Linked DNA regions of Homo sapiens. The protein of the gene in region 1 purifies or fractionates together with the protein of each later gene. This does not show direct contact. Each region holds a gene or a part of one and is shown in the gene's direction. Other genes may lie near its edges. The genes, in order: RPEL1, APAF1 and DUSP29.

The links.
Region 2: the proteins of RPEL1 (region 1) and APAF1 purify together in Homo sapiens (affinity purification with mass spectrometry; one large-scale study listed by BioGRID and IntAct). This does not show direct contact.
Region 3: the proteins of RPEL1 (region 1) and DUSP29 purify together in Homo sapiens (affinity purification with mass spectrometry; one large-scale study listed by BioGRID and IntAct). This does not show direct contact.

What each region holds. Positions count from the first base shown.
Region 1 is NC_000010.11:103,244,484-103,248,665, forward strand, and holds RPEL1 (ribulose-phosphate 3-epimerase-like protein 1), read left to right. Parts: upstream 1-1,403; 5' UTR 1,404-1,513; coding exon 1,514-2,200; 3' UTR 2,201-3,533; downstream 3,534-4,182. UniProt on the Homo sapiens protein: Catalyzes the reversible epimerization of D-ribulose 5-phosphate to D-xylulose 5-phosphate.
Region 2 is NC_000012.12:98,679,726-98,683,377, forward strand, and holds part of APAF1 (apoptotic protease-activating factor 1), read left to right. Parts: intron 1-551; coding exon 552-677; intron 678-3,417; coding exon 3,418-3,549; intron 3,550-3,652. UniProt on the Homo sapiens protein: Oligomeric Apaf-1 mediates the cytochrome c-dependent autocatalytic activation of pro-caspase-9 (Apaf-3), leading to the activation of caspase-3 and apoptosis. This activation requires ATP. Isoform 6 is less effective in inducing apoptosis.
Region 3 is NC_000010.11:75,046,089-75,049,740, reverse strand, and holds part of DUSP29 (dual specificity phosphatase 29), read left to right. Parts: intron 1-3,652. UniProt on the Homo sapiens protein: Dual specificity phosphatase able to dephosphorylate phosphotyrosine, phosphoserine and phosphothreonine residues within the same substrate, with a preference for phosphotyrosine as a substrate. Involved in the modulation of intracellular signaling cascades.

The sequences.
Region 1 (4,182 bases):
TTTATTATTATGCTAAATATTTGTATGCTCCTGTCTCCTTAACAAAAGGCAGTAAGTTGTAGTAGAGGGCACGAGGTAGAGATTTTGGCCCTTGGTTCAAATTCAGATTCCCGCACAGTCTAAATGAACTTGAATAATTCACTTAAATCCTCAACATCGGTTCCTCTAGGTAGATAATACCAACACATAGAGACCACACAGGGTTGTAGTTAGTATTCTATCAGATCACCGGGGTTAAAGTACTTTGAAAACTCCATGCAAAGTGCTCCACAAATATTAGATTGGTGGACACTTTCATGCTCCTAGATCAGCTCTTGGAACAAACTAGGAACTGAATGAACCCTGATGCTCCAAGTTGTTGGGCCATACTGCCTCCTGGTGGTAGTCATGAAACGTGCAGAGTCTTTGCTGCTTGGGGTGCTCCTGGGGTTGGTTGGGTAAGATCAGGAGCTGGCCGAGAATGTGAGGAAAACCCAAAGTACCCGGCCAGGGAGGGTATTTTTCCTTCCCCGCTGAAGACACTCCCCAGGCCAGTCCCTTGACGATGGAAGAGTCAGTCTCCTCTCTGTGCTCTCAACTTTCTCTTACTGCTTTTGCTTATGCTGTTCCACCTTCCAACTGGTGCCTCTTCCAAACCCTAAATCTTCAGACCTTCTCATATCCAACTCTTCCAGAAGGGATCCCTGAACCATGCCTCCCAGGGTATCCCGCACCATTTTTGTTTGTTTGTTTGAGACGGAGTCTTGCTCTGTCACCCAGGCTGAGTGCAATGGCATTATCTCCGCTCACTGCAGCCTCCACCTCGCGGCTTCAAGTGATTCTCTTGTCTCACCCTCCCGAGTAGCAAAGGTTACAGGCACGTGCCACCACGCCCAGCTAATTTTTGTATTCTTAGTAGAGACAGGGTTTCACCATGTTGGCCAGGCTGATCTCGAACTCCTGACCTCAGCTGATCCACCTGCCTTGGCCTCCCAAAGTGCTGGGATTACAGGCGTGAGCCACCACACCTGGCCATCCCTCACCATTTTTTTAAACCTACAGAATTCACAGCCTGTACTTGACTGCTATTATATAGTTCTCTCCAAACTATGTTTCGGGGTTTCTTTTTTGTTTGTTTTCTGTCTCTTGTTTGAGACAGGGCCTCACTCTGTCGCCCAGGCTGGAGTGCAGTGGCGCAATCATGGCTCACTGAAGTCTCAGCCTCCCCGGCTCAAGCAATTCTCCTGCCTCAGCCTCCCGAGTACCTGGGACCACAGGCATGTGCCATCACACAGGCAAATTTTTTACTTTGTAAAAACGGGTTCCTATTATGTTGCCTAGGCTGGTCTCAAACACCTGGGCTCAAGTGATCCTTCTGCATTGGTTTCCTGAAGTGCTGGGATTACAGGCATGAGCCACTGTGCCTGGCCAAACTGTGGTTCTTTGGTAGAATTTCCTGGTTTTAAAAAAAAAAAAAGTGGGCTCTAGTCTTGCCGGGGACTCGTGGGGTAACTTGTTCTTGGGAGCCAGCGGTATGGCGTCGGGCTGCAAGATTGGCCCGTCCATCCTCAACAGCGACCTGGCCAATTTAGGGGCCAAGTGCCTCCAGATGCTAGACTCTGGGGCCGATTATCTGCATCTGGATGTAATGGATGGGCATTTTGTTCCCAACATCACCTTTGGTCACCCTGTGGTAGAAAGCCTTCGAAAGCAGCTAGGCCAGGACCCTTTCTTTGACATGCACATGATGGTGTCCAAGCCAGAACAGTGGGTAAAGCCAATGGCTGTAGCAGAAGCCAATCAGTACACCTTTCATCTCGAGGCTACTGAGAACCCAGGGACTTTGATTAAAGACATTCGGGAGAATGGGATGAAGGTTGGCCTTGCCATCAAACCAGGAACCTCAGTTGAGTATTTGGCACCATGGGCTAATCAAATAGATATGGCCTTGGTTATGACAGTGGAACCGGGGTTTGGAGAGCAGAAATTCATGGAAGATATGATGCCAAAGGTTCACTGGTTGAGGACCCAGTTCCCATCTTTGGATATAGAGGGCGATGGTGGAGTAGGTTCTGACACTGTCCATAAGTGTGCAGAGGCAGGAGCTAACATGACTGTATCTGGCAGTGCTATTATGAGGAGTGAAGACCCCAGATCTGTGATCAACCTATTAAGAAATATTTGCTCAGAAGCTGCTCAGAAACGTTCTCTTGATCGATGAAACCATAAGGAGCCCAATGTTTCTGTTCATGAAATCTCCCTTTTACTGGAAAACAGGAATATTGACTACCAAATCATCATGAAATTGAAGCTGTACTGCTTTTTTGAGCAGTTATTCATTCCAGTGATTAAAACTGATTGTGCAGAATATTCTAAGAGGTCAGAAATTGGTGTGTATAACTACATTTTTAGTGATGCAATTTAATGATTAGTGAGTAAGATACTGTTTTTATTGAGAGACTTGATTTTTATAAAGAGTAAAAATACGGCTGCATTAAGGTTACAAACAGAAAAGTGTCTTAATGCCTAAGGAGGGCATATTAGCTACACTACAAAAACAAATTTTGTCTGTACTTCTGAAAAGAATTTTGTTGTTTCTCAGCTGTTTTCCAAAAGCAAAGGAAGTCTTTATGGCTTTTTTCTATTTCATGTTATTTGTGATTTGTTTATAAGTTTGGGTGGGATGGCATACCATATTCTTGGTTCTTAAAATCTATCACTTTTCACCTTACACTTAATGTGTAAAAACTATAAAAACAATGCGTGAAACCCAGGGGTTCTAAAATACAAGCATAGATTTTATCAGGGTGTTTTTGTCAAAGCAGGTTATTCAGTGATTCCTCCCCACCATTCTTAAGGACGTTAAATAATGCTGTTGTGTTAGCTCTGAGTAGAAAGGAAAAAGTAAAAACCTCTGTATGGAAGTAATATTGGGTTGAATTCTGACTGCCCTTTTCTAGCTGGACCTTTAACAAATCACCCAGTCTTTTTTGTGTTTCTCTGAAGTCATTTATACATTAAATGTAATTATAACAACTGTGGGGTTGTGTTGAGAATTAAGAGGTAACACTATATATGTAAAGTTTCTAGTACTAGTCCCAGAATTTAGAATATGCTCAATACAAAGTAGATAGCATTATATAAGTTTATATTTTTGTGAGTTATAAAGTACTTTGATATATTCTCATTAAATCTGTAAATCACCTCTATAAGTAAGTGGTAATAATAAAGCAGATATTTTTGTCCCCATTTAAAAAAAAAAAAAAGTGTTCCCTAACAGTTTCCAGAGCACGAGCTGAAGGGATTGACGGGCTCCTCAAAGGCTATACACTTTTCATGGCCTTGTCTCTTCCAGGTACAGTGCTGGCTACTTTTACATATATGTTGTCAACAAATCCTCAGGATAATTCTAAGGCAATTCTACTGCAAATGAGATACTATCTTAATTTACAGTTGACAAAAACTGAGTCTCAGGAAGGTTGCCTGACCTGCTCAAGGTCATATAGCTAGTAAGGGTGCAGTATAGGTTCGAACCCACCTGCCTGATTACGTCTCCCATGCCAACTCCTATCCATTGGTAGCACCTGCCTGAAACAGTGACTTGAGAAAGAATTCCTAGGTTTTGAATTCTTAATTATTGAATTAAGAGGGTAAAGTGCCAGGTTTGATTAGTTGTGGCTGCCATGAGTGAGGAATGGTGAGTGGTGATGTACAAGCCTGGTATTTGCCATTTTCCCATTACCCCATGCCAGATAGTTCTACAGGAGGCTACTCAACTTGATTCTGAACATGGTTTTAAGAAAGAATGATCCAGCCTGGGCAACAATGTAAAACCCCATCTCTACAAAAAATACAAAAATTCTCCAGATGTGGTAGCATGTGCCTGTGGTCCCAGCCACTCGGGAGGCTGAGGTGGGAGGACCACTTGAGTATGGGAGGTCGAGGCTGCAGTGAGCTGAGATCACACCACTGCACTCCAGCCTGGGTGACAGAGTGAGACTTTGTCTCAAAAAATAAACTAAAACAAACAAAAAAAGGAATGATATGTTGAGTAGGCATGAGCTCTAATGTTAAGACTGACCTGTATTAAAACCCAGCTCATTTGTTTTTAGAACTTTGAGCAGTTACTTGGCCTGTTGAATGTTGAAGCCTTACATTCCATTTGTGTTAAATATGCATAATAATCTCTGGGTTGTTATGAGG
Region 2 (3,652 bases), on another chromosome or scaffold:
CGTGTAAGCTGCTTGTGGTGTGCCTGGTCCAGCCACAGCCTCACAGAGAGCCAGAGCCCATGCTGGCACCTGGAGCTGCCTGCCCCGCTGCAGCAGTCAGCACGTCTGTGCGCAGTGGCTGGACCCCACGCTCACTCACACACGCCTCGCTGTTCCACGCCTGACTCGCCCTTGGCAGGCTTGGGACCCAGGCTGGTAGTGTGAGCTGAATGCAGCCTGTCAGGCCAAGTGGGTGAAACAAGACCAGTGGGCCCAAGCAAAACTTGGGCAAAGGCGCCACCGGCCACAGAAGTTTCTGGCCAGAAAATCAACACCCCAAAGATCCTGTAACATTTTCATTGATATTTACAAACATGTAACAGTGAATAGTTCTCTAGTTATGTGAAGGCATACACATTCTGACAGAAATTCTGATTTTGGGAGTAGCTTTGCCAAGGTTCCTTTCTGTTTTGCAAAATGACAATGATTAAACTCACTTAAAGATTTTTATTGAATGATGACCAGTAGTTAAGCAGTTTATTATAAAAAATATTTTATTGTTACTTGTGCAGGTGTTCAAAGCTGAAACAGGAGAGAAACTTCTAGAAATCAAGGCTCATGAGGATGAAGTGCTTTGTTGTGCATTCTCTACAGATGACAGATTTATAGCAACCTGCTCAGTGGATAAAAAAGTGAAGGTAGGAAAATCTTTTCCTCTTGAGTTGTAATCACAACAGAATTCATTTTATTTTTCCATGATCATGAGACCAGAGTAAGTAGAGTTAAAGGACTCTCACCTGTTGATCTACTAACCTGATTCATTGTAAATTAACACTATCTGAAAATTCTTTACTTTTTTTTAAAGAGACAGGATTTTGCTCTGTGACCCAGGCTGGAGGGCAGTGGCATGATCATAGCTCACTGTAAACTCCAATTCCTGGGCTCAAGTGATCCTCCTGCCACAGCCTTCCAAAGTGTTAGGATTATAGGTATGAGCCACTGTGCGTGGCCTGAAAATTCTTTATTTTTAAACACCAGCAAAAATGCCTAGGTTGATCACCTCAGGATTAAACAAGCAGTGGGGAAAAGCAATGACAAATTAGTGAGTTTGTCTTCCATTAATAGACAAGTCCATGGGTTAAATATCAGTTGAAATCTTTGAGTGCATTGTGATTAGGAGTGTTGCTGCACAAACTTGGGGATTCCTGTTGTAAGATACAATTTTAAAATGCAACCCCAATTTTTTTAATTTGCTTATGAACTGGCTTATATATTCAGTGGAAAACCAGGTGGATGAACAAACTAATAATTACGTTACTGGTCTAAAAACATAAATAGAGAAAAGTAAACAGAGTAATTTTTACTTATTTATTTTGAGGCAGAGTCTTGCTCTGACACCCAGACTGGAGTGCAGTGGTACAATCTCGGCTCACTGCAATCTCTGCCTCCAGGATTCAATTGATTCTTATGCCTCAGCCTCTTGAGTAGCTGAGATCACAGGTGTGCACCACCATGCCCAGCTAATTTTTGTAGTTTTGGTAGAGACAGAGTTTTGCCATGTTGGTCAGGCTGGTATTGAACTTCTGGCCTCAAGTGATCCGCCTGCCTTTGACTCCCAAAGTGCTGAGATTATAGGCATGAGCCACTGTGCCCCGCCAGAGAGTAATTTTTATTTTTGTTAAGTATTCTCTTGTTCCTAAATTTGGCTTCTACCAGGAGCATTTATACTAATATAGAATTCAAGAGAAACTGAAGGCTTGTGGGGGTTATCACTGATATATGGAAGACAGACCTTACTTTAACCCTTTTTCAAAGGGGTTAAATCTGGAGTACTGGATGTAGCTAGGTGGAGTGGGCAAGAAATTTGCCTTGGGTGTTTTCCTGAAGTTTTCACCTACTGGAAGAGGGCTATGGAATGTCCAGACTAAATTTGAGACCTTGGAAAAATCTACCTCTTGATAGATTGGACTCGTGGCTTAACCAACAGTTAATTCACTCTGTAGTGTCTACTCTGACTCTGAGTCAGACTTGGAGGTGGCCACTGAGGGCAGTTCTAAAGTCAGAGCTACATGGAGTAAAAGGAAATAATAATGAGTTTCTGTTTTCTAAGCCAGAGGTAGAAATACCTATTAAAGAACTTTAAAATAAGATAAACTCTCTGGACCTCTGGGGATTCTAATCAGTGCTTTGATAACATACAAAGGAAATGCCAAAGGACATTAGTACCTCTAAAAAGTCAAAATCCCAGTGAAGGTTCATTAGGTAATTTATTTCTTTTGTTTGTTGTTATATGGCATAGACTGCTTAGTTGTCTTACATAGTAACTAGAATGATGATTAATTTTTTTGTTTTTTTTTTTTTTTTTTTGAGACGGAGTCTCGCTCTTTCGCCCAGGTTGAACTGCAGTGGCGCTATCTCGGCTCACTGCAAGCTCCGACTCCCGGGTTCATGCCATTCTCCTGCCTCAGCCTCCCGAGTAGCTGGGACTACAGGCGGCCGCCACCGCGCCTGGCTAATTTTTTGTATTTTTAGTAGAGACGGGGTTTCACCATGTTAGCCAGGATGGTGTTGATCTCCTGACCTCGTGATCTGCCCGCCTCGGCCTCCCAAAGTGCTGGGATTACAGGCGTGAGCCACCGCGCCCGGCCTGATGATTACTTTTTACTGAAAACTGAACACTATAAGAGGCTATAAATACTACACACTTTGTCATATTACATTATCAATTTCCTGCTACAGCTTGCAGGGTTAAGTGTCGATCCCGTTTACAGAAGAGGACGCAGATTCAGAGATGAAGTCTCTTGCTCAAGCTTACATTAAACTGGGAACAGTAATAGGGTTGAAAGCTGGGTTTCTCTCAGACTATAAAACCTTTATTTTTTTTAACTAAGCAATCTGCCTTTACTTATTTATATGGTACCTTGAAGTCCATAGAACACTTGTCATGTTCATTATCTCATTTGATATCTTAAATTGTGTGGGAGAGGTATAGATATCCCCATTTTACAGAAGAGGGAACTGAGATGCAGGTAAGTTAGGGATTTGTGACACACAAGTCATAAGTGGTAGAGCCAGCTCTTGGGCTCAACCCTTCTGACCAGAAATCTATTATGCTAACCTCTTTAAAGCACTTCTCTGCCTGCTTTCATTCATATAAACATGTGAAATCTTGCCCTTAAGAAATGTCATGTGTTCATGACACTCTAGTTATGCTATAGGTACATATATGTATATTTGCAAATAATTTTTTTTAAACATTAAGGCAAAATATTGCCATATTTTAGAAAGGGGAGAGGTTTCATTAGCATCTTGTCCAACTAGGAAAATCTGCTATGACAGGATAAGATAGCATTTGCAAAGCAATGGACATTGCTTTGCCCCTCTGTTCTCCCTTTGAAAATAATGGATATTTGTAAATTTTTTCTCTTTTCTCTTTAGATTTGGAATTCTATGACTGGGGAACTAGTACACACCTATGATGAGCACTCAGAGCAAGTCAATTGCTGCCATTTCACCAACAGTAGTCATCATCTTCTCTTAGCCACTGGGTCAAGTGACTGCTTCCTCAAAGTAAGTGTGGATATTGAGAATTAGGTAGATAAATTTGATTCGTACATCAGAGTATCTCCTTTGATTTTCTTATGTATACTACTATTAGGACTTTCTGGTCACA
Region 3 (3,652 bases), about 28 Mb from region 1:
CTTCTCCCCGAAAAGGAGGAACTAATTCCGCCTTAAGGCACCGAGCACGAATGAAATTAACCTGCTTCTTCGAGGTGTGGGTGGTGTGGCCAGTTTAGGATGCAGCAAAAAACAGTCAAGGTTGCGAATTTAACATGCTGGGCGTTACCTGAAATAACTAGGACTTCCAACTACTGAAGGCAACTGAGGCATAGCTGGGCAGCAGTCACAGGCAAGACGGTCGGGGAGAGAAGCCTGAGGCCCTGGCCTGGCCTGGCCTTCTCATTGCCAGAACACGGCTTAGCAGTCAAGGCCTCAAGCAACATAAACCATCTCCTTGCATGGTTAGGCAAATGCCGAGTCCAATCACTCACACGACATCATTTCTCAAAACCAGACCTCCTGGGTACTCTCTTCTCTTCACCTCCATCCTTGGAGGAATAGAGTTTGGGAGAGTGGGGCAGACAGGAGATTTCCAGTAGAAGTTAAAAACCCCGAGGCCACCTTATGCCTTTACAATGGTCTCTCCTGAAAACTAAGGAAATAACAATACAAATCATGCTATATTTACATAGTAAATGAATATATGACTCGTTCATTACTGAAAATGTACAAAATGTAGAAAGACAAAAACAAGAAAATTTAAACTACATATAATCCCATTACCACATTTTGTCATGGGATAAGCACATTCTGACATAAATCTTTCCACTGCCTTTTCCCCTTGGAGTCATCTTTTAACCTCTCAAAGAAGCTTCAGTATTGCATCATTCAACTTCACAAGACTCTCACAAGGAAAGTACTGCCAGTGTAATCGGTACTATTTAGCAAACAAAGAAAACGGAGGCTCCCAGCAGTTCTGCCACCTCAGTTCATGCGTCAGTTTCAGCTGTCAGCCCTATGTTTTCTCAGGTGCCTCAACACGGAGGAGCTTCACCCTCAAGTAACAAGAACACCCAAGACACCGGAAGGCCGGTTCATTTCACTTTCCCATCAGGTGAACTAACCGAGATCAGATGCCAGAAATGTGCCCACTGTTTTAAAGTCCACTTGCAAGGAACGGGCACACTCAAGACTGCACGGTTAAGACTCCACTGGGTTTGGGAGGTGGAGGCAGGTGGATTACCTGAAGTCAGGAATTTGAGACCAGCCTGGCCAACATGGTGAAACCCTGTCTCTACTAAAAATACAAAAATTAGCCACGCATGGTGGCACACACGTGTAATCTCAGCTACTCGGGAGGCTGAGGCAGGAGAATTGCTTGAACCTGGGAGGTGGAGGTTGCAGTGAGCAGTGAGCCGAGATTGCGCCACTGCACTCCAGCCTGGGCGACAGAGCGAGACTCTGTCTCAAAAAAAAAAAAGAAAAAAAAAGTAAACTACATGATTCCAGTGAACTGGGAAGAGTAAAAAAAAGGTTACAAAAAAAAAAAGTAAACTGCATGAGTCCAACAAATGTGTAAACAATGTCCATCACTGCTAAAATGAATCAGTGAAAACAAGACACCATTAATTTTTTTTGTCTATGAAATTGACAAAGAATACGGACTGCAATTTTTAGCAATTTTAGCAAGTTTTCTGTAGGGTAATTTAGTAACAAGTATCAAATGTATTTTAAAATGGCCATATCTGTTGACCCAGCAATTTCACCTTTAAAAATGTCTCCTACGGACATAAACAGAGGAGTGCCCAAAGAAACACATCAAAATGTTTGGTAAGAAAAAATTGGGACATACCTATATAATGAAATAGCATGCAGTTATTGAAGTCTTATATGTTGCCACAGGAAGATGTTTACAATATATCACGTCAAAGGTTTTGAAACTTTATATATATAGTATTGTACCAAAAAAAAACCTTTCTATAAAATATACAAATCTATGCATAGAGAAACAATGGGAGGTTCTTACATCAAAAGCTAACAATAGCCTTTATCTCCAGGGGAGTAGAAATACAGGTGATTTTTTTGGAGGGGGGAGTATGTTTTCTACATTCTACATTGAGCATGTGTTATTTTTGTCATGAGACGACATATTATTTAAAAATTGAACAGACTGATCACATCTAGGATTGTGCCTAACCAGAAACTAAAGCTCCTGTGTCATCTAGATTCTGGAAGTACATTCTTAAATCTGTTTTTCTTTCTGAAGTCTTTTCTCCCTCAGCAGAGGCATTTATGTGGACCCAGGAGTGGGGCACACGGCCTTTTCTCCATGCCCATCACCTCAAAATGCCCCTGTGTTTCTTAGTCTCTTTTTAACATATGTGAGCAGATAATGTATGTGGCCCTGAAATTTAAAAACAAAACCAAAGCAATCTAGTGTCAGACACCACCCTCTGAGCCTGCCCCACTCCCAATAATTGCTGAGCTGGGCATCTGTCCCATCTGGGGACTGGACGATGGGTGTCTGTGATGATGGCTCTGCCTCCCCCACAACATCTGTGTAAGAGGCACTCCATTTATTTGCAGATTCCCATTCTGCTGTGGATGCTCTTTCAAGCCCTCAACTGAACTCTGAGTGAATGAAGCTGGGGGAAGTCCCCAGAGTGATGTGTGAGGATACCAACTCCCCTTCCCGTCCAGGGAGCCAAGACCCTGAAAACTTGTGGTGGGCCTCAAATACCCACCGGGTCTCAGGGTCCTCACGAGCCCCTTTCTCTGCCTCAGGCACAACCAACGTCAGCCTGGTGTGGTGGATATGGAGGTGTCAGGCAATGAGTCTTGTTGCATATCTATCCCGCTCCCCAAAAGTGGCAAAGTGCAAACTGTTATTCATTCAAACTGCCACTTGATTATGTTGAAAGCCAGTTACTGAACCCAGAGAGAACAGTCTTCATGGTGGGTAGGAGCTTCCTGTCAAGAAGAGTTAATTTTAATTTTTCCACTGAGCTCAACCTCAAAGTGAGGTTGATTGCTACTCAGCAAGATGGACTGCATTAGCGGCGGCTTTAATTGGGCGCAGATCTACGTCCCCAAAGCATAATGTTTGTTGTACACATACTTTGGGGCAAGACGAAAAATGAAAAGCAGACCTTTCTAAGGAAAAATGGAAAGCACAATGTGTCCCACAGTCAGAATGGCCACACTAAGAGCCAAGTGGAGGGGGGCTCAGTGGGACTCCCCACCTCCCCATGCCACAGTTCTGATGGGCTGTCTGCAAATGTTTCCAAATGCTCAATTCCCTTCCCAAACACTGGACACCATCATGGTTCTCATGCCAAATAAAAAGCTCCAGGAAACCAATGAAAGACAAGCGCACCCTTGGCCGAGGGGCCATGGCATATATTTCTGGTGTGAGGCTTCCTCCTGGCTCAGGGTGTTGGTCCCTGCTAGCATCTAACATGGTCACTTCTGTCCACATGCTTTTACCAGTGGCCTTGAGATGAGCCCTCAGCTGGAGTGCAATGCCACTTTTACCCTCTTACTGGTACGGCTCCAGACCCTTGTCACATCTTCCCTGAGCTGAAGTCCTGGTCTTCATGCTATTGAGGGAAGTGTCTTCTTAAACCCAGATTGTATCACTTCTCTTTAAACACTCTCTAGAGCTCTCTTTGACTCCCAAACACAGATCCTAGCATCCAGGATCCCCACACATCAGCCAGATTGATTTTTCTTTTTCTTTCTTTCTTTTTTCTTTTCTTTTTTTTTTAAAGACAGAGTCTCTGCTGCTCAG